4 linked regions of the Homo sapiens genome follow. The protein of the gene in region 2 interacts with the protein of the main gene of each other region in a biochemical or structural test. Each region holds a gene or a part of one and is shown on either strand. Other genes may lie near its edges. The genes, in order: UBE3B, EPAS1, EGLN3 and F12.

Region 1 (7,036 bases), on a different chromosome or scaffold from region 2:
TGAGACCTCCCTCTCAGCTTGGCCCAGCTGCTGGCTCTTTCTGTTTGGAAAGCATCTGGCTTCTCCAGGTTCCTGGGGTATGCGAGGAGTGCTGCCCAGGTGGCTCGCTTCCTCCGTGCTTGGGCCAGAAGCTCAGCAGAGCCTGAGACCCAGGCAGGGTCCCTGCAGCTCTGGAGCCCACTGCGAAGGCCACACAGACTGGCTGGGCTTGTGCTGCAGCTTTCCTTCCTCCTGGGAAACAGGACTCTCCCAAGGAACAGGCGGTGACTTCCCACTGAAGGTGGTCCCACCTTGGCTTTCAATGGACGGGGTTTCAATGGACAGGAGCTGTGTGGGCCACATCACCCTGACCCCATCAGGCCACAGAGTGGAAACCCAGACTCACTTCCTCTTAGTAAGGTGAGGATGACTGCTCCGATCCACCTGGTGTGAGCAGCTGGCTGGGCACCGTAGAAGGCCCTCCTCACTTACCATTAACGGCAACCCAGGAATGTGGCTTTTCTTATCTCCACTTTACTGATGCGAGAACACGGCTTAAAAACTAAAGAAACTTGAAGGCACATGGTCACACGGCTGACTAGGAACAGCTGGTCCTGTCCTGTTGCCATGGCTGGGAAGCACTCACTCAAACAACACAAGATTTTAAAACTATCAAACTCCACAAAATGCTGCCCTCCTACAACGGGGACCCAGCCTCCGTGTGGCCATCTGGCTCTGCACACCACTCCTCATGCCTCAGGAAAGAAGAGGGCTGGCCTTAGGACTTGGGCCGGCCTGGGTTCAAATTCCACCTCTACCACTTAACTAGCAACGAAACTCTGGACAGGTGACTCCTCAAAGCTTCAGGTCTCCCATCCTTAAATAGCCAGGACAGTGGCAGCCCCGTCACAGGGCTGTCGATGGGATGAGATGAGATGCCACAGGCAAAGTACCTAGCACTGGTGTACAACAAACCTTGGTTCCTGCCCCTGTCCTCGCTTGTATCCTAGTGACAGTTTACATGGCCAAGCCTGATCACATATGTGTATGTGAAGAAGCCCATGGTACCGTTAACATTTTATTTTACATTTCTCTGTTTCTTAACGTTCCTACCTCATACACAGCCTTCCCCAGCATCTTCCCCACAAACTCGAAGAGCTGCAGGTAATTCTCATGGATGTAGGATGTGGGTGAGGGGTACAGCCTCTCATCCCCACTGGTTGTCTGCAAGGCAAAAAGACGGGGAGAGGCAGAGGTCAAGTGCCTTGCAAGGAGCAAGCCCAGCTCTTCACTTCTTGAATCTGGCTGCTGTCAGCCCTGCTGTTGCTCCCCTTAAATACCTTGAACAGATTGAGTGCTGGGTCAAAAACTCTCTTGATGATCTCTTCCAAGAACTCCTTAAAAACACCGTCTTGATCAATCCCTGCTTCGTCCACCCCGAGGTCATTGACAAACTTCACACGGATGACCCCCTTCATGGCGTGCTGGGAGAGCTGCCTAAGCTGCTCGTAGCCGTCCTGCCAAGAGCAGAATTACAGCCCATTAGGAAGCCCAAAGCCTTATGCACACAATTCGGGGTTCCCTCTCCTCTGTGCGAAGCTCTCCCAGCATCATTACCAAATGTGCAAATTATGAAACGTGGATGCATGACAGGAGCCGTTCTCACCTGCTTTTGAATGAGTGCTGATTAAAAGCAAAGATTCATTTGGGGATGTGACAGTATCACTCCTTGGCAAGGGGAGACTGACCTCAAGGGGACAGAGCAGTGAGATGGGGAAGTTAGACAAAATGAGTCATGACAAGCTCCTGGCCATCAGACAAAGGATGAAAGAAACCGGGACAAGATACATTTCTCTCTCTCTCAATGCTAAGAGTATCTTTAGCTCATGGTAAAAAAAAGAAAAAAGAAAAAAAAAAAAAATCAAACCTACAGAACACTGTAAAATGAAAAGAATTACCCATCACCCCTCATCTCCCGCTGCCTTCCCAATCATGAAGTGCCTGCAAGTCATGCTGAGGAATTTAGGGGACATCCTGAAGGTAATGGGAGCTGCAGAAGGTTTTAGGCAAAGAGTAACAGGGCTGACTTTCTGTCAGATCTTTCTATTGGCAGCAGAGCAGGTGGATGGCAGGGATCAACGCAGGGAGCAGAGACCGAGATGTGGGGGTGGTGCTGGGCCTGGACTTCTGGCTGGTGGTCAGCTCTGTTAGGACACAGCCATTCAGCACATCTACTCCATCCAGACCTCAACATGCACAGCCCCAGAACCACAACTTTGGAGTTCTCCTACTAAATCATCTGTTTAGTTTGTCTCTTGATTCTAATCTGTTGAGGCCTTCCTGGCTTCTGGTTCCATCATCTAATGCATTCCTAGTACTTGGGGTGCTGAGGTTTTTATTTCAGAGCAGTGACTATAAAAACAGTGCTGAACAGCACAGGGCCCAGGGAAGAGTCTGTTGGCCCGACTTGAGAGGCCCAATCACCAGGTGAAACTGATGTCTTCAGACACTGTGATGGAACAAGTGACCAATCAACCCTGCTGTCCTATGAAGGCCATGCCACATTTCTCCCTTTCAGCTACAACTGTAACACTGTCACATGCTTCGCAGGTTAGACAGGCTGTCTCCACAGCATCCACTCGGCTGCCGTCTGGTCCCCTCATCACAAAGCAAACGAGCAGTATGCCAGTGTGGCGAGACCTGTTTTGGGGAACCCTTGCTGCCTTCCTGCCATGTTCACCCAGTGATCCCCAAAGGACTATCCTATGGTGCCCCGATTCAGGGGTTAGGCTTCAAAGTTAGTGGGCAAGGGAAAATTACCTCTCAAGACCCCTAAGTCACATGTGGGAACAGGAGCACAGTTTTGTGGAGGCAAACCTGAGAAGGACTTTTTATGTACATAAAGTTTGAGAATCATTAAGTTAGATGACAAAAGGGAGAAACAGGAAGTCAACAGGCAGCTGTAACAGCATTTAAACCATTCTGCCTAAATTTAAGATAATTATCTTGGCACTGAGATGAGAACGGATGGAGAATTCCATCAAGTTCCTGTCTGCCTGCAGGAGTTCCTCCAACCTGCTTTAAAATTATGCCTCCCCAGCCTTCACACGCATTAGTAGATGCGTTTGTGGTTATGTGGATGAAATGGGATGGTACATGTGAAAGCAAGTGGCACATGGCCTAGCTCAAGGAGCGTTTACTGGATTCAAATCTCAGTCTTGCTTGATCAGCTCCACACCAGCCTCTTTGTTTAAACGTTTAGAGGGGACTGCCTCTTGTGATACATTTCCTGCCTTCTGGGAACTGGCGTGGATATGCGAGGATTATATCCATGCCTCTTGGGAGGTGAATGTGAGTCAGCGTTCCTCTTCTTCACTGCATCTCAACATGCACACACAGGGAATACTGAGCTAGAAAAGGGATGCCTGGCTTCCAGGCCCAGCTCTATCACTGATATCCAAGTGACCTTGACTGAAGTTCTCTGGCCTCAGTTCTGCCTTTGACAGAGACAGGGGAAAGGACTGGGTAAGAGTATGTTTGAGGATCCTTCCGGTTCTGAATACTAGAGTTCCAGCCCAAACTCACCCTCTGGGAAGAAGAGCCTTCCTACAGGACTTTAATATCTGGAAGCCTAATAGAGAAGCATAGCCCTCAATACTAACCATAAAAAAGGAAACAATGCCCAGGAGAGCATGAGTCTGAGATCAGCTTACTGACGCCCCCTTGTGTCCAAATCCAGCAAAGGCCCCTGGGCTCTCATATTCTAATAACCAAGCCACCAGATTACGACAACTGGGATAACAATGAACAACCCTCTCCCCTTCTCCAGTGGAAAGTAAAGAGGAAAAGGGACTTTGCCTAAAGCCTAAGACAGACATCTCTTTTGCCATCCCTGAGGGATATGCTTTAAAAAGTAGGGCCAGAGTAACTGGGATGTCAAGTGAATTTCCAATAAGCAATGATATTTGTGAAGGGAGTCGGATTCTGCCACTCTCAGGAGATACTGCAATCTATACCACCCCAGACTCTTCCCATGGGTGGGTGCTGGCCACGTCTGGGTAGGCGTGATGGGTAGTGGGGCTGAGGATTTCTAGAGACAAGGGAGATGCATCTGGGTCTGCAGAGGGAAGTGCTAGAAAGGGAGTCCCTACCACACAATTGGGCTTTTTCTGAATCAAAAGCAGAGGTTGCAAATGGGTGGCCCACAGGTTGAATTTGGTGGAAAGACAGGTGTTATCTGACTTTCTAGGCACTTTACAGAGTTCAATTAGTTCACAACATGGAAGATCTGAATTTTGGCCTTCTCTTAAAAACTCAAGAGCGTTATGGAGCCCACCTCGTCACATGGCAGGTCTGGAGGAGCTGAGTGGCGGTGGCCTCTTCTGGGGAGGCACGTGCTTCCAACTGCTCCCCAACACTGAGGCTGGGTGTCAGTTGCCATTTATCAACTCACTCGTGGGGGCTATTTTTCTCAAGTAGAGCTACACAGACCAAGAGGGCTGTTTCAAGAACAGGAGGGCGCAGAAGTGGAGATTATTTCTATATGTCTAGCACGCAAACAGAATGCTCCTGTAATGAGACCCACTCAGCCAGCTTTACTCCTTCACATGGCCTGCAGGGCCCAGTGGGCCCTTCAATTCCTTATGCCTACCTTGAAGAATGTCAGAAACATCCACTGTTCAGCACACACTGCCTTCCTAGCAGCTCTCGGCATTGATCACCAGTGGCCAGGGGCACTCAAACAAGCTCTCCAGTAAGGAGTGACACAAACAAGGTACGATGCACCGAGGGAGAAAATGAAGACACGTGAGGAGGAACAGCTGCTGCCAGAAGCCATCTGCTGGTGGGGGTGGCTATCTGGCCACATACTTCAGGGGATCCCGTGACTGTCCTACACTACAGGACAGGCTCATGGGGAACTGCAGCTGGAGTGTGATAAAAAGGTCTGAAGTGCAAACATGGCAAATAAATGAAGCCAAGCCTCTCCAGGGAATGGGGACTGTGGCTCAGTCACCAATTCTATCGCTGGCAGGATGAGCATGTATGGGTAGGCTGTGCACTATACAAGCCCAGGGGAGGCTGTGGCATGGATAACACAGACATCGTAGGTAGTTAAGTTTATGACAACCATGTTCCAGCAGATTGGAGGCACGGTCTTGTACCAACAAAACCAATGTATTGTGACAATTTTCTGACATATGAGGACTGGGTACCTATCTCTAATTTACATGGAGTCACCGTATAGTGGTAGTTCCAGACAACGGATTTAGCTCAGGTGGGTCACTTCAGTGGTATCTTGTAAGTTTCTGTCTACAAAGAACTTCTGGCTCTGTGATAAAAGTATTTCTCTACATAACTCAGTAAATGTAACACCTCCACTCCACTTATATACTACAATCACAGTTGAGAGTCTCAGCAAAGTGCCTGCTGGGACAAATGGAGTTTGCACAGACCTGAGAGTGTTAGTGCAGCCGCTGTGACTGGCAGCTCCTGTCCTCATTTCAAAGGGACATGAAGAGGTGGATGCTCTAGCCCAGGATACTCTAGCTCTCATGGGGTAAAGGAAGACACTGCTGGGTCTCCAGCAATGAGAACATGTTTAACCAAGCAGCTGTTCAGAGCAGTCAACAGGACAAATGACCCCTTTCCTGCTCCCAGAGCCTTAATTTCAGATCAAGGAGTAACAGGAACAGTTCAAAAGCCAGAGACCGTCCACTAAAGAGCTTCCATGTTGCAGGGCCCACTTCCTTGTGGTAGGATTCCATAGGCTTCACACTCACCTCCAGCATCCTGGACCGGCGGATGGTGATGTGAGTGACATGCGGGGAGGCAGAGCTGGTTTCCACCAGCCCCAGTTTCTCCTTCTCCTTGGTAACCATGGTTCGAAACAGTAGAACTCTCTAAAATGAACAAAGGCGGGATCAGAAAACAGGGTCAGCAAACTGACGATTCCATAAAAACACTCTGCAAAAATGACTGAAACTGAAGTTAGATGAGATGCAAGCAGAATGGGATGCCTTAACATGTGCTACCAGTTAGAAGTGTCCTGTGAGAACAGAAGCATTCCCTGGAACACTTGTGGGAATTAGAAATACTGTTGAATACACAAGCAAAAAACGTTCCGGAAAGAGTGGTCTGGCTGCAGCTAGGGTCCAGCTAGGAATGGCCCACGAGAAAATCCTCCTCAAGGCTGGGCGTGGGGGCTCACGCCTGTAATCCCAGCACTCTGGGAGGCCCAGGTGGGCGGATTACCTGAGGTCGGGAGTTCAAAACCAGCCTGGCCAACATGGTGAAACCTCGTCTCTACTAAATACAAAATACAAAAATTAGCTGGGTGTGGTGGCATGCACCTGTAATCCTAGCTACTTGGGAGGTTGAGGCAGGAGAATCACTTGAACCCAGGAGGCAGAGGTTACAGTGAGCCAAGATCGTGCCACTGCACTCCAGCCTGGGGGACAGAGTGAGACTCTGTCTCAAAAAAAAAAAAAAAAAAAAAAGAAAAAAAAGAAAAAAGAAAATCCTCCTCATTCAGTCAATAATCCACTATAAAAACTTGGTGGCAGAACAAGTTACAGAGCCTTCTTTATCTAGCTGTGCCTGCTTTAAGGGAAATCAATATTATGAATCCTAAGAACAAAAATAATTCAAAGATAACTTTTCCTACTGTCAGAAAATTTAAAAATGACCCTACAGTATAAAGCTCCCTGACCTTTCAACCTGCCTCCTCTGTGCCTTCAAGCCCACCACAGTCCCACCAGTAATATTTCTCAATTACTGCTTGAAAGGAACCCTCTCTCCTTATTCTTAAGATTCTGCTAAACCTATTTAGAAAGAGCATGACTCTTTGCCCCATCCTGGGCTCAAGAATCAGCACCCTAATACCATTTAAATCAAGTCAGCTGAATGAATACATAAATCTAACCACAGCTGTTTTTTTAAAAATGGGAATCTCCCCCAAAGTCAAGAACTTTATTAAATACAAATAAGAACAGTAACAGCTGGGCACAGTGGCTCACGCCTGTAATCCCAGCACTTTGAGAGGCCGAGGCAGGTGGAT
Region 2 (2,827 bases):
ACAGACACCACTGAAGGAGCAGAGTGAAATTAGGGCTGCTCTATTGGTATCCCCCAGTCACAAAGAAGTAGACACTTTTCCAAATGTTCGATTTAGGCCTTTAAGTTATGGTACCAACCCTTCTTTCAGGCATGGCAAGCCGGCTGCTCGGGCCCTCATTTGAGTCCTACCTGCTGCCCGAACTGACCAGATATGACTGTGAGGTGAACGTGCCCGTGCTGGGAAGCTCCACGCTCCTGCAAGGAGGGGACCTCCTCAGAGCCCTGGACCAGGCCACCTGAGCCAGGCCTTCTACCTGGGCAGCACCTCTGCCGACGCCGTCCCACCAGCTTCACTCTCTCCGTCTGTTTTTGCAACTAGGTATTTCTAACGCCAGCACACTATTTACAAGATGGACTTACCTGGCAGACTTGCCCAGGTCACCAAGCAGTGGCCTTTTTCTGAGATGCTCACTTTATTATCCCTATTTTTAAAGTACACAATTGTTTTACCTGTTCTGAAATGTTCTTAAATTTTGTAGGATTTTTTTCCTCCCCACCTTCAATGACTTCTAATTTATATTATCCATAGGTTTCTCTCCCTCCTTCTCCTTCTCACACACAACTGTCCATACTAACAAGTTTGGTGCATGTCTGTTCTTCTGTAGGGAGAAGCTTTAGCTTCATTTTACTAAAAAGATTCCTCGTTATTGTTGTTGCCAAAGAGAAACAAAAATGATTTTGCTTTCCAAGCTTGGTTTGTGGCGTCTCCCTCGCAGAGCCCTTCTCGTTTCTTTTTTAAACTAATCACCATATTGTAAATTTCAGGGTTTTTTTTTTTTTGTTTAAGCTGACTCTTTGCTCTAATTTTGGAAAAAAAGAAATGTGAAGGGTCAACTCCAACGTATGTGGTTATCTGTGAAAGTTGCACAGCGTGGCTTTTCCTAAACTGGTGTTTTTCCCCCGCATTTGGTGGATTTTTTATTATTATTCAAAAACATAACTGAGTTTTTTAAAAGAGGAGAAAATTTATATCTGGGTTAAGTGTTTATCATATATATGGGTACTTTGTAATATCTAAAAACTTAGAAACGGAAATGGAATCCTGCTCACAAAATCACTTTAAGATCTTTTCGAAGCTGTTAATTTTTCTTAGTGTTGTGGACACTGCAGACTTGTCCAGTGCTCCCACGGCCTGTACGGACACTGTGGAAGGCCTCCCTCTGTCGGCTTTTTGCCATCTGTGATATGCCATAGGTGTGACAATCCGAGCAGTGGAGTCATTCAGCGGGAGCACTGCGCGCTATCCCCTCACATTCTCTATGTACTATGTATGTATGTATTATTATTATTGCTGCCAAGAGGGTCTGATGGCACGTTGTGGGGTCGGGGGGTGGGGCGGGGAAGTGCTCTAACTTTTCTTAAGGTTTTGTTGCTAGCCCTTCAAGTGCACTGAGCTATGTGACTCGGATGGTCTTTCACACGGCACATTTGGACATTTCCAGAACTACCATGAGATGGTTTAGACGGGAATTCATGCAAATGAGGGGTCAAAAATGGTATAGTGACCCCGTCCACGTCCTCCAAGCTCACGACCTTGGAGCCCCGTGGAGCTGGACTGAGGAGGAGGCTGCACAGCGGGAGAGCAGCTGGTCCAGACCAGCCCTGCAGCCCCCACTCAGCCGGCAGCCAGATGGCCCCGCAAGGCCTCCAGGGATGGCCCCTAGCCACAGGCCCTGGCTGAGGTCTCTGGGTCGGTCAGTGACATGTAGGTAGGAAGCACTGAAAATAGTGTTCCCAGAGCACTTTGCAACTCCCTGGGTAAGAGGGACGACACCTCTGGTTTTTCAATACCAATTACATGGAACTTTTCTGTAATGGGTACAATGAAGAAGTTTCTAAAAACACACACAAAGCACATTGGGCCAACTATTTAGTAAGCCCGGATAGACTTATTGCCAAAAACAAAAAATAGCTTTCAAAAGAAATTTAAGTTCTATGAGAAATTCCTTAGTCATGGTGTTGCGTAAATCATATTTTAGCTGCACGGCATTACCCCACACAGGGTGGCAGAACTTGAAGGGTTACTGACGTGTAAATGCTGGTATTTGATTTCCTGTGTGTGTTGCCCTGGCATTAAGGGCATTTTACCCTTGCAGTTTTACTAAAACACTGAAAAATATTCCAAGCTTCATATTAACCCTACCTGTCAACGTAACGATTTCATGAACGTTATTATATTGTCGAATTCCTACTGACAACATTATAACTGTATGGGAGCTTAACTTTATAAGGAAATGTATTTTGACACTGGTATCTTATTAAAGTATTCTGATCCTACCACTGCTGGTGGCTCTTATTTCCTGTGGATTTATCATGGGCTATGCCAATGTAAAGTGAAGTATTAAGTCGTTCATATAAATTGAACATTAGCACAGACCTTTATGAGACTACTGAAGTGAGCTGATAAGACTGGTGAAGGAAAGACTGTGTTAAATACTTGGTAGTTGCCTAAGTCTGAAAATTCATATTGTATCTTCCATATTTCTGCAAGTATTTTTCTATCTATCTATCTATGTGCCTCGGGGCCATTTTTTGTATCCTATGGGGAACCCAAGGAAAGAAGTCATGGTCTCTGCTTTCAGAAAATTACATGAAGTCGTTTGAGAGCCACACTGTTCTGTATATTCACATAGTGCACTTTGGGATGGAGGTCCCGAAGGGAAAGGGGCAGCCTGGGCATTAGGACTTCAATTTGGAGGCGGCTGGGCTGGAGTAGGGTCTTCCCAGGTAGACTGTGATTGGGAAGAGCAGAGATCCCCTCGGCCAGAGACAGAGCACAGTGAAAG
Region 3 (8,017 bases), on a different chromosome or scaffold from region 2:
TTTTTCTTGAAAACACGGGTGAAGGATGAACCGGTAAACTGGGTCTCTATCACTGCTCTGGAAAGCAGCACAAAATGAGGAGCTCAGCTGAGGGATAAAAAGTGAGTGAAGAAAAAGAAGGATAAATTAATGTGAAACCAATAAAAATCATGTAGAAATGGAAAGTGTTTCTACCATGACTTTAATAATGAACTTCAAACAAGAAACCCAAGACCACAAGACATCACTAAGGAGACTTCTGTATACAAGCAAAGCACACTTAAAAAAAATTTAACTACACTAGTTGTTTGCTCAAGCCTGGTTTGCATTTGGTTCTAATTGGCCAGGGAATATTCCAATCGAAAGGTGATTTATCTAAAGGGCAGGGAGCTTTGTGACAAACCAGCCAAAGTAAACCTGGAAATCTGGGGGTGGGACAGGATAAATTTTATTTTCAATTCACGATCACCTTCTGACAGGGTCACCTGGAAAGTTTTTCATTCCACCCAAAAGATAACCTAAAATTGATGAATCATATCTACAGGATCTTTCTTTCCCTTACCCTAACTTACACAGTGTTTTTCCTTCCATTTGAGTTAAATTCTAGTCTGAAACCCTATCCCTATCCATTAAGTCAAAGCTAAATAAAAATATTTAACTTTCAATGTTAGTGGCCTCTTTCCATACCAATTAATCCTGACCTCCCTCAGAGCAAATTCTGCTCCTAGAATGATGAAGAAAAACTCCTAACACCTAAATTTACAAGAAACATTTAAAAACCCAATAAGAAGCCGTCTGCTCTTCCAGGTAGAAACTACCAGCATCTCAGCAACACTGAGGCTGACCCTTCCCCTCCCCGACACACCTCCACCACAGAAGACAGCAAGGTCATTTAATGCAAAAATCAAACTAGTCAAAGACGAGTGACTAATCCACCACCAACATGATGGAAGAAGAATAAAGAAACACTTTAGCATCAATCTCCTACAGAGTTCAGCTCACGCGGAATTTTTTTCCCCAAAGTAAAATTTAGAAAGCAGTATCTTCTAAGATTTACTTTACTTGGGTGCATTAATAACGATGCTTTCAGATATTCTATTCATGGCCTCTTGGCTTGGAAGTTGTACGGCAAACTGTGACTCCCCACTGCACTCATCCACCTCCACCCCTTCACTCCCACACGTTTCCAATCCTCACCACTTAGCCTTTATTCAGAGTGTTCCTCTCAGCGTATTAGAGAAATGAGAGAACAATGGTCTGTTCTGAGACAGGATCAGTCTTGAGACTGATTTGAGAAATACTATATTTATTGTCAAAGAGTGGTACATAGGTGAGTGTTCATCTTCCCTCTCATGCCGGTATACTCTGCTTCGCTGTTTCAGTAAAAGTTTTCCGTAGTTCTGAACGTCCCTTGACCACACCATAAGACAAGCGCAAGTCACTCAGAATTGCCACTGGAAAACTGGCTCAACTATCATTTGAGGAAAGACTGAGAAAGCCTATCCCAAAGTAATGGACATGCACCAACATCGCGGTACCTACATGTTCCCGTTTTTCTGCCAATCTACCTGTGTTTCCAAGATAAATTACCACCCAGGGAGTCACTTCCTGCTATGTGAACAAAAACCCGGTTTCTTTCTGGAGGTGCTTGACTACTCTCTCGTGAGCACTTAACTGGTTGTTTTGAGTGGACTTTGCCATCAATTCATAGTTAGGAAAAGGAAGGTGGTGGTGCAGGGCTCAGCATCAGGAGAGAATTTTCAGTCAAGAAGATGGTCTAACAATGTGCTGGGTCCCAGGGGGCAGAAGCAGCATTCAGAAGTGGAGTTTTACCCTTTCACACCTGCCCAACTCCACAAACCAACTGCCACATGGCAAAATCACAACTGCCTCCAGAATTCTGAGTGCTTTTGTAGAAATCTCTTCTGACCACAATGAAGGGCAGTATTAGGTGGCTTTAAAGTAGGCATTTAAGATCATGAGGACACGTGTGTCTCAGATGATACACAGTGTTTCCAATACCCTTTCCCTCCTTTGGATCTTTGAGAACCTCGTCTTAAAATCGGACCACAGCCACAGCTTGTCTGGCTTTTGTCACCCACAAGAGCCAATATTTCAAAGTCAACAGAAGGTCATCATCATGGTTCACCTGAGCCCCTTAACGTTGACTTTCGCTCAGAGGAGCTGGGGCGAGGGGTGGGGGGAAGCAGCGAGTAGAGACAAACCAGGCTGACTTCTTGGTTAAAAAACAAAGTTCGCTTACGGCCCTGGGAAGTCGACATACAACGGACTCCGAGTGCCTCCCGTCCCCGCGGGAGCAGCTGCGGCAGGGCGCCGAGCGCGTCCTACCTTAGACCTCTCCTTGACGTAGTATTTGCCCAGCCGGCTCCCGCAGTAGAGGACCAGCCTGTCGATGAGGGACAGGAGGAAGCTGATGGCCTCGCAGCCCTCCTCGTTGCCCCCGATCCACGTGATCTGGTCGCCCCGCAGGTGTCGCTTGGAGACGCCGGCGCGCGGCCCCGCCAGCTGGCCGTCCCGCAGGGCCCCGGTGCAGTGCAGCTGCTTGACGCGCTCCAGGACGCAGTCGCCCACCACCTCGCCCAGGAAGTTGTCCAGGTAGCAGAAGCCCACCTCGTGCAGACAGGGCACGATGTACTCCAGGGCAATTTTCTCCAGGTCCAGCCTCATGATGTGTCCCAGGGGCATCTCGCCCGCAGAATCGAGGTCCGGGATCCCCAGCGTGCAACCAGAGAGGGAACGATCTACACGAGCGCGAAGCCGAGGCGCGGGGAGCGTGGCCCGGGGTTCAGAAACCTGCGGCTGCCACGGTACCCGAGCCGCTGCAGCGTCGGGGACAAGGGAAAGTTTCTCGCAACTCTCGGGAGAAGGGATCTGCCTTCGGGAACCAGCGGGAGTGGTGCGGAGCTCCACGACCCGTTTCCGGACTGGCCCGGCGAGCAGTGCGGCGCAAGGAGTCGGAGGGCGCCTTTTGGGGATGGGAAGCCACCACTGCCGCGACTGCGGCCAGACTCCGGGAGACGCTGAGGTCCGGCCCTTAAGCCGGCCGACTCCGCGCGTCACGGGCTCCGCCCCGGGACCGCCTCCGGGACCGCCCTTTCCCCCGCCCCGCTGCCAGTCACCCCCGCCTGCTCTGCCCCTCCGCGAAGGATCCCAGAGAGCCCGGCGCCAACCTTAGTTGTTTGTGACCAGGGGAGCGGCTGGAAAGCAGACTGAATTTTTAGAATGCGCTGGATTTGCATATTGTTTTGCATAAAATCACATAACAAACTTGAAAACCTGGATCCCACACTGAAAATGTAAATAGAATTAACTGCCACATTCTGGGTTGGTCACCTCATAGACTTTTGAGCAAAATAATAACCCCAAAAACGAATATATTTATTAAGCAGTGGTCTTGTTCTACCTTTACCGGGTGTCTTTCCTTATTTACCCCATTCCTCTGCTGTTTGACCCAGTTCAAGCCACTGAGAGATTAGGAGGTATCTAGTTTTAACTAAAATTAATGCATTAACGAATATTTCCCTCAGCCCCTACTGTGTGCAAGGCACTATGTGCTTGAGGAGCTGGGGATGAGCACAATGAAGAAATGCTGAGTCATATCTGATTGAACTCTGCAAATGGTGTATTTTGCTTTGCTTGATGTTTTCCTCTACTTACCTTTCAAGCTTCCTATTAAAATATGATGTTCCGAAATTCTACCTTCCAAATTAATCACATGCTTCTGTAACAGTCAGAGGTATGTCCCCCAAAAGATACACTGTATTCTAGGTCTCTCACTTTTCCCACAAGCAGCTGTACTTTCACAAGAGGGACAGACACCACTGAGAAGACTTTGGTTATCTACAGATAAGCTGATTTGCTTTATGGAGTTTTGATTCCCTTTCCTACTGAACACCAGCGATCAGAATCAGGAAAAAATTCATAAATTGCATGCAAAGCTATTTGTACTTCTTTAAAAAAAAAAAAAAAGGAACTGTATTTTTTTTATTTATTTATTCTGAGACGGAGTTTTGCTCTTGTTGCCTGGGCTGGAGTGCAGTGGTGTGATCTCTGCTCACCACAACCTCCGCATCCCAGGTTCAAGCAATTCTCCTGCCTCAGGCTCCCAAGTAGCTGGGATTACAGGCGCCCGCCACCATGCCTGGCTAATTTTGTATTTTTAGTAGAGGTGAGGTTTCTCCACATTGGTCAGACTGGTCTCGAACTCCCGACCTCAGGTGATCCGCCCGCCTCGCCCTCCCAAAGTGCTCGGATTACAGGCGTGAGCCACCGTGCCCGGCCTATTTGCACCTTTTTTACTTCATATGAGTGCACACTTGGGTTCTTCATTTAAGTTGAAGAAAAGAATGTACAGGTTTTTCGGGTATTGTTTATTGTGGAAGCAAATTTCTACAGCTTTTTCACTTTTCTTCTTCCTCCAGCAGCCCTCTCCTCTCTGCCTCTGAGGGGAGAAAGGGAATGACATCCAGGACAAGAACAAAGAATAGAAGAGGAAAGGTGCTGCTACAAGTTGGAAAGAAGCAGACAGAGGCACGTGGTTGAGTAAGAACCTGGGGGATGGTGAAGGAGAGCAGTCAATGGTGGAGTGCTTAAGAAACTTTGATGAAACTTCTAGTTATATTGAGAGAGGTTCTCTGCCAAGTCAGTGATTAGTTGGCACCTTTGGTATTACCTTTGAGCAGGAGGTACCCCTCCTTGGGGTAAAGGCCATCACTGCTCAAAGAGCTCTTGTCTAAATTCCCAAGGCAGCTCCATGATGAGAGGAGACCATCATCCTTGGAACCCCAGTGTTTAGCACATAGTGAATGGCTAATAAATAGTTACTGGGAACTCAATGTCTGACCCTGAGCCATAGCAGCCTCCACTTGGGATTCAGTATGTCTGGGCTTATCTGGAAGGATCTATTTGCAAAAGGGGCTGGGGAGCCTCCCCAAAGAGAAGTCACTGGAAAAGAGTCAAGCAAATTAGCCTGACCCAGCACAAAAGCTTAGAGGCCAGTGGAGGGAGAACTTAGGAGTTCTACAGGGCATTTGTCTCTCAGCTTTGTCTATCTGAGCAGTGGACATTTGAGTGGTGGGAGCCAGAGACATAAAGTGAAAACTGGAGGACTGTTAAATTGCAGCAAAGGGCCAGGCACAGTGGCTCACACCTGTAATCCCAGCACTTTGGGAGGCCGAGGTGGGCAGATCACCTGAGGTCAGGAGTTTGAGACCAGCCTGGCCAACGTGGTGAAACCCCGCCTCAACTAAAAATACAAAAATTAGCCACACATGGTGGCAGGCATCTGTAATCCCAGCTACTCGGGAGGCTGAGGCAAGAGAATCACTTGAACCCAGCAGGTGGAGGTTGCAGTGAGCTGAGATTATGCCACTGCACTCTTGCCTGGGTGACAAAAGTGAAATTTAGCCTTAAAAAAAAAAAATTGCAGCAAGGAGTGAAATGGAGTGCAGTACCAAAAAGGAGGAAAGCCCTCCTCTCTACTTCTGCTTGAACCCTGCACAGAAGGAACTGCTTTGCCTCCTGCAGTGATCTCCTCCAGGGGCACTATGGATAATGGGGTGACCAGGAGAAACCTGGTCTAAGACAGCCTGAATGTAGACCCTGGTTGGCATTGGGTCGTGCATTTTGCAGCTTTGGGGACTGTGTAAATCTCAGAAGTAGATATCCCTGAAGAGGGACAGAATCAAAAAGGGGGAAGGTGACAGATAATCCTTAGTAACTAGCTGAAATGTTTCTAGCTGGAGGCTTTTTGTAGATACACCTTATTCCTAGGAACGATAAGGAGGGAATTTACAAAGGAATGGAAACCTGCAATCACTGGTAGAGGGGTGGTGGTCAGTAAAATACAGAAAATTATACAACCACCTTCCAGAATGAACATGTTGACCCAAGACTTCAAATCCCAGGAGTGGGTAAATTTAGTTTACTGTTCAAATAATATTTCAATAATTTCACAGTAAAATTGTAACTCGTTATAACTAGAGCAATAGTCTAAGTGAGTCCTAGTGACAACTGTTCTAGATTATGTTGGTTGTAAAGCATGGGCAGTTTAGAAAGGAATTCAATCCCTTGGCACCATCCCTGCTTGGCAAGGGCACTCATTAATCAATCAAGGACCTCCCGATCAGCTTAGGGCTGCCAGCACTGCATTTGGCAGAGGAATCAGAGATACTGTGACTGGCAAAAATCAGAGTGTGTGATTGCACGGAGGAACACAGACAGGCTGGAGCCAGGCACAGGCTGTGGGTCTGAGCATCAGAGAGGGAAAACCCAAGCTAATTGTTAAAGTGCATTTGCTTTAGTTATTTGTCCACTAATTTGTGTCATAATAATGAATATTAAAATACCTTTCCATAATAACTAAAGCAAATTAATTTCCCTGTAATTTAATTACAGCAACATTGTCTTCCAGTGTGCATCTGCAGTATAGATGCAGTCATTTTCAAGCATGTGGAGGAGTAGGGGAGAAAGAAAAATGTTGAGTTTTCTTACCTTTGAATTTGAACTGGAAGAGATATTAGTGGTCACCTAGTTCAACTTCATTTTCCTACAGATGACGAAACCAAAGAGTCTCAGTTGAGTGGAAGAGGAAGCATGGGATGCTTCTGCCTTCTCAACTGTAACACTGTCCTATTTATATATGTATGCATTTTGACTTTAACGAGGTAAAATTCACAAAACATAAAATTTACGATTTTATAATGAACAATTCAGTGGCATTTACTACATTCGCGATGTTATGAAACCACCACCTCTCTCTAGTTCCAAAACATTTTCACCACCCCAAAAGAAAACTGTGCCTATTAAGCAGTTATTCCCCATTGCCTCCTCTCCCAAGCCCCTAGCAACCATCAATCTGCCTTCTCTATGGATTTGCCCATTCTAGATATTTCCTAATAATGGAATCATATAACCTGTGACCTTTTGTGACTGGCTTCTTTCACTTAGCATGATGTTTTGTACCATTTACCAAGATTTTATTTCTTTTTATGGCTGAATGATAATTCCACTACGTAGATATACCACAATTTGTTTATCCAGTCATCCACTGATGAGTATTTGGGTTGTTTCCACTTTTTGGCTATTATAATAGTGCTGTTATTAACATGCATGCATAAGTATGTTGAGTACCTGTTTTCAATTCTTTGGAGAATAGACCTAGGCATACAGTTTTGGGGGCATATGGTAATTTTATAACTCTTTCTTTTTTTTTTTTTTTTTTTTTGAGATGGAGTTTTGCCCTTGTCGCCTAGGCTACAGTGCAATGGCGCAATCTCGGCTCGCTGCAACCTCGACCTCCCGGATTCAAGCGATTCTCCTGCCTCAGCCTCCCAAGTAACTGGGATTACAGGCACCTACCACCACACCCAGCCAATTGTTTGTTTGTTTGTTTGTTTGTTTTGAGACAGAGTTTCGCTCTTGTCACCCAGGCTAGAGTGCAATGGCACCATCTCGGCTCACCGCAACCTCCGCCTCCTGCGTTCAAGCGATTCTTCTGCCTCAGCCTCCCAAGTAGCTGGGATTACAGGTGCCCGCCACCATGCCCACCTAATTTTTGTATTTTTAGTAGAGATGGGGTTTCACCACGTTGGCTAGACTGGTCTCAAACTCCTGACCTCAAGTGATCCACCCGCCTTGGCCTCTCAAAGTGCTGGGATTACAGGCATGAGCTACTGCGCCCGGCCTATGTTTAACTTTTTGGAAAACCACCAAACTGTTTTCCACAATAGGTGTACCATTTTACATTTCCAACAGAAATATGGGAAGGTTCCATCGTGTCCTTTTTTATTTCTGATGAAAAATGTCTACATGTCTTCTTTTCCATCAAAGTACTGCCATACCTGAGGTTCTCTTCCTCCTAGCTGGTATCTGAATATTTTGTGTGTGTGTTTTTACCATCCTATATCATCAGAAGGTTTATCATTATTTTGCATGACTTCACTGTGAGCAAAGGCAACCTTATTTATTGATCCATTAAACATTTTTGCAACACTTAGTACTGTGCTAAAAGTTTACA
Region 4 (6,894 bases), on a different chromosome or scaffold from region 2:
TAGACTCCTGACTCCACAACCTGCTAGCTGTGTGACCTTGGGTAAGTCTTCAGTCCCAAGGCCAGGAAGAGCACTTGCCACAAAGTAGGCACTTAATAATACTTGTTGAATGTTGAAGTCACTGTTAACCACTCTGATCTGAGCCTTGGTTTCCTTATCTGTAAAACGGCAGTAATAATAGTACAGTTGATCCTCATTCTTCTCTGGTTCTACATTGAGAATGTGCCTACTTGCTGAATTTTATTTGTAACTCCCAAGTCAATACTTGAAATGTTTTCATGGCCATTTGTGGGCATGCACAGAGCAGTGAAAAATTTGCACATTCCCAGTTAAGGTTCAACAAGGCGTCACGCTGCTGCTGCTTGTTTCAGCTCTCCTATTGAATGAGTGTCCTTCTCAGTCTACTTAGTGCAACGTTTTTCACACTTTGTGCTTTTGCTGGGGATTTGGCTTTTGGAAATGGCCTCTGAGCCTCCTGCTGAAGAGCTGTGTAGTTCCTAAGCACAAGAAGGCTACCTTAGGGAGAAAGCGTGTGTTAGACACTTGATTCAGGTGTGTGCTATAGTGCCATCAGCTTAGCATTGATGAATCAGCAACACATATACTAAATAAAATGTCTTTAAACAGAATCATACATAAAACCAGATTATATGCTGTTGGTTGATGAAAATGTTGTGACCAGAGGCTCACAGGAACCTAATACTGTTTGCTAGTTCAATGTTCACTGTGATTTTATAGAACATAACCATCGCGAATAATGAGAATTGCCTGTGTCTTCTTCAGAGGAATTGTCGTGGGGCTTCATGAGATAATGCCATGAAATGCTGAGCAGTGTCTGGCACAAAGTACCTGCTCAATAAGCTTTTGCCACTATTTTGTTCAAGGCAAAGTGCACTTGCCAAGGACCAAACCAGAACTAGGACAGTAAATGGAAATGGATCTGAGATGGACCTTTAAGATGCAAATGGGGGCCAGGCGCGGTGGCTCACGCCTGTAATCCCAGCACTTTGGGAGGCTAAGGTGGGCGGACCACCTGAGGGCAGGAGTTCGAGACCAGCCTGGCCAACATGGTGAAACCCTGTCTCTACTAAAAAATACAAAAATTAGCTGAGCATGAAGTTGTGTGCCTGTAATCCCAGCAACTCGGGAGGCTGAGGCAGAGAATCGCTTGAACCCAGGAGGCGGAGGTTGCAATGAGCCAAGATCGCGCCATTGCACTCTAGCCTAGGGGACAGAGCGAGACTCCATCTCAAAAAAAAAAAAAGATGCAGATGGGATGGACGGACAGAGAGGAGGGGGACCTTAGGCAGGGGATTAGGCAAGGATAGGGCACCAAGTTTGGGTAAGGCAAGAGAGAGGAGAAACTTTTGGGTGTGGGGTGAAGAGAGGAGGCTGAGGGAGTCCAGGGTTGGAATGTGCTGGGCCTCAACGCCATGCTTAGAGACTCAACCCCACCAAGTCAGGCCCACCAGGGTAAGGTCCATCTGGTTCACAGGCCCTGCTATGTGCCACACTCTAGGTAAATTTTTTTTTTTTTTTTGAGACGGAGTCTTGCTGTGTTGCCCAAGCTGGAGTGCAATGGTGTGATCTTCGTTCACTGCAACCTTCACCTCCCAGGTTCAAGCAATTCTTCTGCCTCAGCCTCCCGAGTAGCTGGGACTACTGGCGCATGCCACCATGCCTGGCTAATTTTTGTACTTTTAGTAGAGACAGCATTTCACCATGTTGGCCAGGCTGGTCTCGAACTCCTGACCTCATGATCCACCGACCTTGGCCTCCCAAAGTGCTGGGATTACAGGCATGAGCCACCATGCCTGGCATGTAGGTAATTTAGTGTCTGGAAGAATGAAAGCAATGGGGAGCTATGGCAGAGCTTGAGGAAGGGGGAAATGGCAGGTACCCTTCATCTAAAAGGTAGTTTCATAATAAAAGCTAATATTTGTAAAGCATTTCCATGCACCAGGTGATGGGCTGAATACCTCACATGGGTTTCCCTTCTCAACAACCCTAAGAGGTTTACTGTTATCAACCTGGTTTCACAGAAGGGGAAATTGAAGCTTGGAGAACTCAAATCCCTCGCCCAGAGTCACCCAGCTCATAAGTGATAAAGCTGGGCTTCAGAGGCATTCAGATGCCAGAGACAAGCTCTTGATCCTTCCTTGCCCATTGAAGGCCCTGGCCTCTGTGTGGCATGAATGATGCCCATGAGACGTACTGGGGAAAGGAAAAGAAGGGGAGAAGCTGGGGAAACTGAGGAAGGCTGGCAGGAGCCCAGGTGTGATGGCGCCAGCAGCACATATCTCAAGCACCTGCTCCGAGCCAGGCTCGTGGGCACTTAGACACAGCCCATACCCTGCCCTCAAGGATCACACAGCTCACGATCACTCTAGTGCCCATGGGCATAAGACCTAGCACCAGGTAGGCACTAGACTAGACTGCCCTGAGACTGCACACACTGCACCATACACATCCCCACCCAAGGGTTCCCGGGAGGAGGAGCCAGGCCACTTACCGACTGTGTGCTCTTCAGCTTTGTACTTATGCTCCTTGGGGGCTTCCCAAGGTGGAATCTACAAGGGAGAGAAGAAGGCAGGGAACTGACTATAAGTCATAGCCTGCCACCGATCTGTTGCTAGTCTGCAGCTTCCTCTCACAGCCCAGAAATGCAGAGATTTCTTCCCAAGACCCAAACCCTTTCTACCTCCCCCCGTTGTCTTCTTAAGGCCCATCTCCCCCAGAAATGCAGGCTGTGCCCTTGTATCCACCCAGTCTGGTTGTCTGTCTCCTCTGCCTGGGCCTTCCGGGCTGGCCTCACCTTTCCACATAGGCCTCCTAGTCACCTGGACCCACAGGTCATGAGCAGAGGCCATGGCTCATGGCTGTGATAGCGACCCCCCAGAACAATCCTGGGACAATCCTGGTTCCCACAGCACTCACCGAAAGTGTTGACTCCAAGCTCACCAGCAGGAACCCCAGGAGCAGCAGAGCCCTCATGGCATCCGTCCGTTGGTCCAGCTGCCTATCCAGGAGTCCAGATCAATAGGACTGGCCAAAGGTCTTGGAAATAGAGATTGGTCAAGCTGCCCTCCTGAGCCTGGTGGGGCACAGGCTGTTTGTGGAAAGCCAAGTGGAGCAACTTCCTTGGTCACCCCTTGAGGGCCGGAAAGTTGGGAGTTTGTGGGTGGGGGTGAAATGAAGAGCTGGGCTCCTCCTCTCTTTTCTAGATAGTGGGACTGGAAGCAGAAGAAGGGACATTCTTATGCTCTGGGTCCTGTGGAGATCAGGAGGTTAAGGAGATCAAAGATCATGGGGATCTTGGAGTCCACTGTGAAGTGTGTTCATTTTCTATTGTCATGTAACAAACTACCATAAACTCAGCATCTTACAACAATACCCACTTTTAATTTTCTTTTTTTTTTTTTTTTTTTTGAGACGGAGTCTCGCTCTGTCGCCCAGGCTGGAGTGCAGTGGCGCAATCTCCGCTCACTGCAAGCTCCGCCTCCCGGGTTCACGCCATTCTCCTGCCTCAGCCTCCCGAGTAGCTGGGACTACAGGAGCCCACCACCACGCCCAGCTAATTTTTTGTCTTTTTAGTAGAGACGGGGTTTCACCATGTTAGCCAGGATGGTCTCGATCTCCTGACCTCGTGATCCACCCGCCTCGGCCTCCCAAAGTGCTGGGATTACAGGCCTGAGCCACTGCACCGGGCCATGTGTCGCCTTTTAAGAACTCACCTGACTAGGTCAGGCCCACCAAAGCCATTCTCCTTTTTTTTTTTTTTTTTGAGACAGAGTCTGGCTCTGTCACCCAGGCTGGAGTGCAGTGGCACGATCTTGGCTCACTGCAAGCTACGCCTCCCGGGTTCACGCCATTCTCCTGCCTCAGCCTCCTGGGTAGCTGGGAATACAGGCACCCGCCACCACGCCCAGCTAATTTTTTGTATTTTTAGTAGAGATGGGGTTTCACTGTGTTAGCCAGGATGGTCTCGATCTCCTGACCTCGTGATCTGCCCGCCTTGGCCTCCCAAAGTGCTGGGATTACAGGTATGAGCCACCATGCCTGGCCCTGCCATTCTCCTTATTTTAAGGTCAAACAATTTGGGACTTAAATTACATGTGCAAAATTCTTTCACAGAAGCATCTACATTCATGTTTGACAGAATAACTGGGAGGTGTGCAAACACCAGGGGTAGAGATCTTGGGGCCATCTTAGCATTCTACCAACCACAGGAAGTGAGGCAAGAAAGCAAATGATTTAATGAGAAAAGTGCTAAACCAAGGGGCACTAAGATGTGCAGCTGGAACATGAGAAGAAGACGGGGTGCACATGTGCTGCCCAGCATCTGTCCTGGTTCGGTAATGACACTTTGATTTTTCCTTTAGCAACGACTCCTCTCTTACTTCTTCCATGGGCTCTAGTGCTGCCAACTCTACCCTCAGAGCTAGGGCTAGAGATGTGGCCTAGGTCTGGTCAATCAGAGCATGACATCTCTAATCCACAGTGATTGGTTCAGAGATAAGCATATACACAATTTAGGCCAATTAAAGTGCTAGCTTGGGACTTTTGCCAGAACTTTTGGGAAAGCAAAAAAGTTGCACTGGGGTTACTAAGCACAGAGCATGTGGGTCTGAACACATTGATGATCACCTTTGTCACTCTCTAGGGAGGGCCTGTTTGAGAATGAAGCCTACACATAGGAAAAGCAAAGCAAACAGGGCAGGAAGGATGGAAAGATGCTGTGGTAGACAGCCTCAAAGACAGCCCCCATTGATCCTCACCACCTAGGATTCATGCCCTTGTATGGTGTCTTCCCACATTGAGTTAGGGCTGTTCTGTGTGTCCATCAGAATATGACAGAAGTGGCTGGGTGTGGTGGCTCACACCTGTAATCCCAGCACTTTGGGATGCCAAGGCAGGCAGATCACTCTAGGTCAGGAGTTCAAGACCGGCCTGGCCAACGTGTTGGCCAAACCCCATCTCTATGAAAAATACAAAAATTAGCCGGGCGTAGTGGCGTGTGCCTGTAATCCCAGCTACCCGTGAGGCTGAGGCAGGAGAATCGCTTGAACCCAGGAAGTGGAGGTTGTAGTGAGCAGAGATTGTGCCATTGCACTCCAGCCTGGGCGACAGGGACTGTCTCAAAAAAAAAAAAAATATGGCAGAAGTGAGGGTGTTGGACTTCCAAGCCCAGGTCATAAAAGACATTGCAGTTTCTGCCTCGGTCTCTTAGGTTGCTCACTCTGGAGGAAGCCAGCCACTGTGTTGTGAGGACACACATGCAGCCCTGCAGAGAAGCCCATGTAGGGAGAAAGGAAAGCACCCTGCTGACAGCCAGTGCCAATTGGACAGCCACATGAATAAGCTGCCTTGGAAGTGGATACTGCAGCCCTCGCTGACATTTGGCTTGCAATCTTATGAAAGACCTCAAGGCAAAACTGACCATCAGAAACTGTGATAAATCATCATTAAATGTTGTTGCTTTAAGCCACAAGTTAGGGTGATTTGTTACACGACATTTGAGAACTAGTACTGATGGATTGATTTCTCATGACTTTGAGAGCCTACATCCTAAAACTAGAAGTATCCTTAAGACTTGGTCAGTTATGGCTAGGCACAGTGGCTCACGCCTGTAATCCCAACACTCTGGGAGGCTGGGGATCACTTGAGGATCACTTGAGCCCAGGAGTTCCAGACTGATGTAGGCAACATAGTGAGATCCCATCTCTCCAAAAAAATTTAACATTAGCCAGGCATGGTGGCGCGTGCCTGTAGTTCCGGCTACTTGTGAGTCTGAGGCAGGAGGATTGCTTGAGCCCAGAGGTCCAAAATGCTGTGAGCCGTGATTGTGCCACTGCACTCCAGTCTGGGAAGCAGACTGAGACTGTATCTCCAAAAAAAAAAAAAAATAGACTTCTCAGTTATATGAGCCAATAAAACCAATTTGAGTGGACTTCTGTCACTTTCAGTTATACAAAGTCCTAAGTTATACAAAGTAATTTATGGGAAATGAAGACTGAGTGTAGCAATTTATTAATTCTGCTGGAAGAGAGGCAGGCTGTGGAAGACTTCTTGGAACAGAAACACAGAAAGAGGAGGGCAGGAGAGGAGGGGCACCTTTCCAACCACTGGTTTCAAAGGTAACTGGTTTCAAAGTCATTGACGTGACAGCTGTTAACTCCATGATGAAAGTGAAACTATTAGATATATTGACGAGTCATTAAAGCGAAACTACCTTTGTCACCTTTTTTGTTGTTTCAAAGAGACTCGGTCTTATTAAGTTGCCCAGGCTAGCCTGGAACTTCTGGGCGCAAGTGATCCTCTCGCTTCATCCTCCTGAATAGCTGGGATTACAGGTTCATGCCATCATGCCTGGCTCTGTCAGTTCTTGATTGCTCCTGAGTATAGACCCTGGCCCTAAGGCCACTCCCACATTGGCTCCTTCCTCTTGGGGAGAAGGCAGCTGTTCCTCTACATGGAAGGGGCCTTTTGAACAGGTCTTCGCCACAAGTAGGGGTTTGCAGGCAGAGTGAGTAATACAACTGCACAGAAGCCTGAATGCAGCGTGTCAAATGGGGAATGTGGTGAGCATAAGGTGCCTTGTAGGGAGTGTGAGATGAGGTGTCAGGTGGACATTAATGGTCATTTGGATGTTCAACATCCATCTCCCTTCCTCTTCCTCTCCCAGTTTCATTTTGTGATCACCCCTCCCCAGCTGTGGTGGTGAAAGGGTACTTTATTATTATTTTTATTTAGTTATTTATTTGAGATGGAGTCTCGCGCTGTCGCCCAAACTGGACTGCCATGGTGCGATCTCGGCTCACTACAACCTCCACCTCCCAGGTTCAAGTGATTCTCCTGCCTCAGCCTCCCAAGTAGCTGCCATTACAGGCCCAC

The links.
Region 1: the proteins of EPAS1 (region 2) and UBE3B form a complex in vitro, tested with the Homo sapiens proteins (one study listed by BioGRID).
Region 3: the proteins of EPAS1 (region 2) and EGLN3 form a complex in vitro, tested with the Homo sapiens proteins (one study listed by BioGRID).
Region 4: the proteins of EPAS1 (region 2) and F12 form a complex in vitro, tested with the Homo sapiens proteins (one study listed by BioGRID).

The regions. Positions count from the first base shown.
Region 1 is NC_000012.12:109,515,608-109,522,643, reverse strand, and holds part of UBE3B (ubiquitin-protein ligase E3B), read right to left. Parts: intron 5,880-7,036; coding exon 5,760-5,879; intron 1,497-5,759; coding exon 1,320-1,496; intron 1,204-1,319; coding exon 1,093-1,203; intron 1-1,092. UniProt on the Homo sapiens protein: E3 ubiquitin-protein ligase which accepts ubiquitin from an E2 ubiquitin-conjugating enzyme in the form of a thioester and then directly transfers the ubiquitin to targeted substrates.
Region 2 is NC_000002.12:46,384,380-46,387,206, forward strand, and holds the end of EPAS1 (endothelial PAS domain-containing protein 1), read left to right. Parts: intron 1-129; coding exon 130-281; 3' UTR 282-2,318; downstream 2,319-2,827.
Region 3 is NC_000014.9:33,948,068-33,956,084, forward strand, and holds the start of EGLN3 (prolyl hydroxylase EGLN3), read right to left. Parts: upstream 3,008-8,017; 5' UTR 2,686-3,007; coding exon 2,329-2,685; intron 1-2,328. UniProt on the Homo sapiens protein: Prolyl hydroxylase that mediates hydroxylation of proline residues in target proteins, such as PKM, TELO2, ATF4 and HIF1A. Target proteins are preferentially recognized via a LXXLAP motif.
Region 4 is NC_000005.10:177,406,534-177,413,427, forward strand, and holds the start of F12 (coagulation factor XII preproprotein), read right to left. Parts: upstream 3,032-6,894; 5' UTR 2,995-3,031; coding exon 2,938-2,994; intron 2,571-2,937; coding exon 2,513-2,570; intron 1-2,512. UniProt on the Homo sapiens protein: Factor XII is a serum glycoprotein that participates in the initiation of blood coagulation, fibrinolysis, and the generation of bradykinin and angiotensin.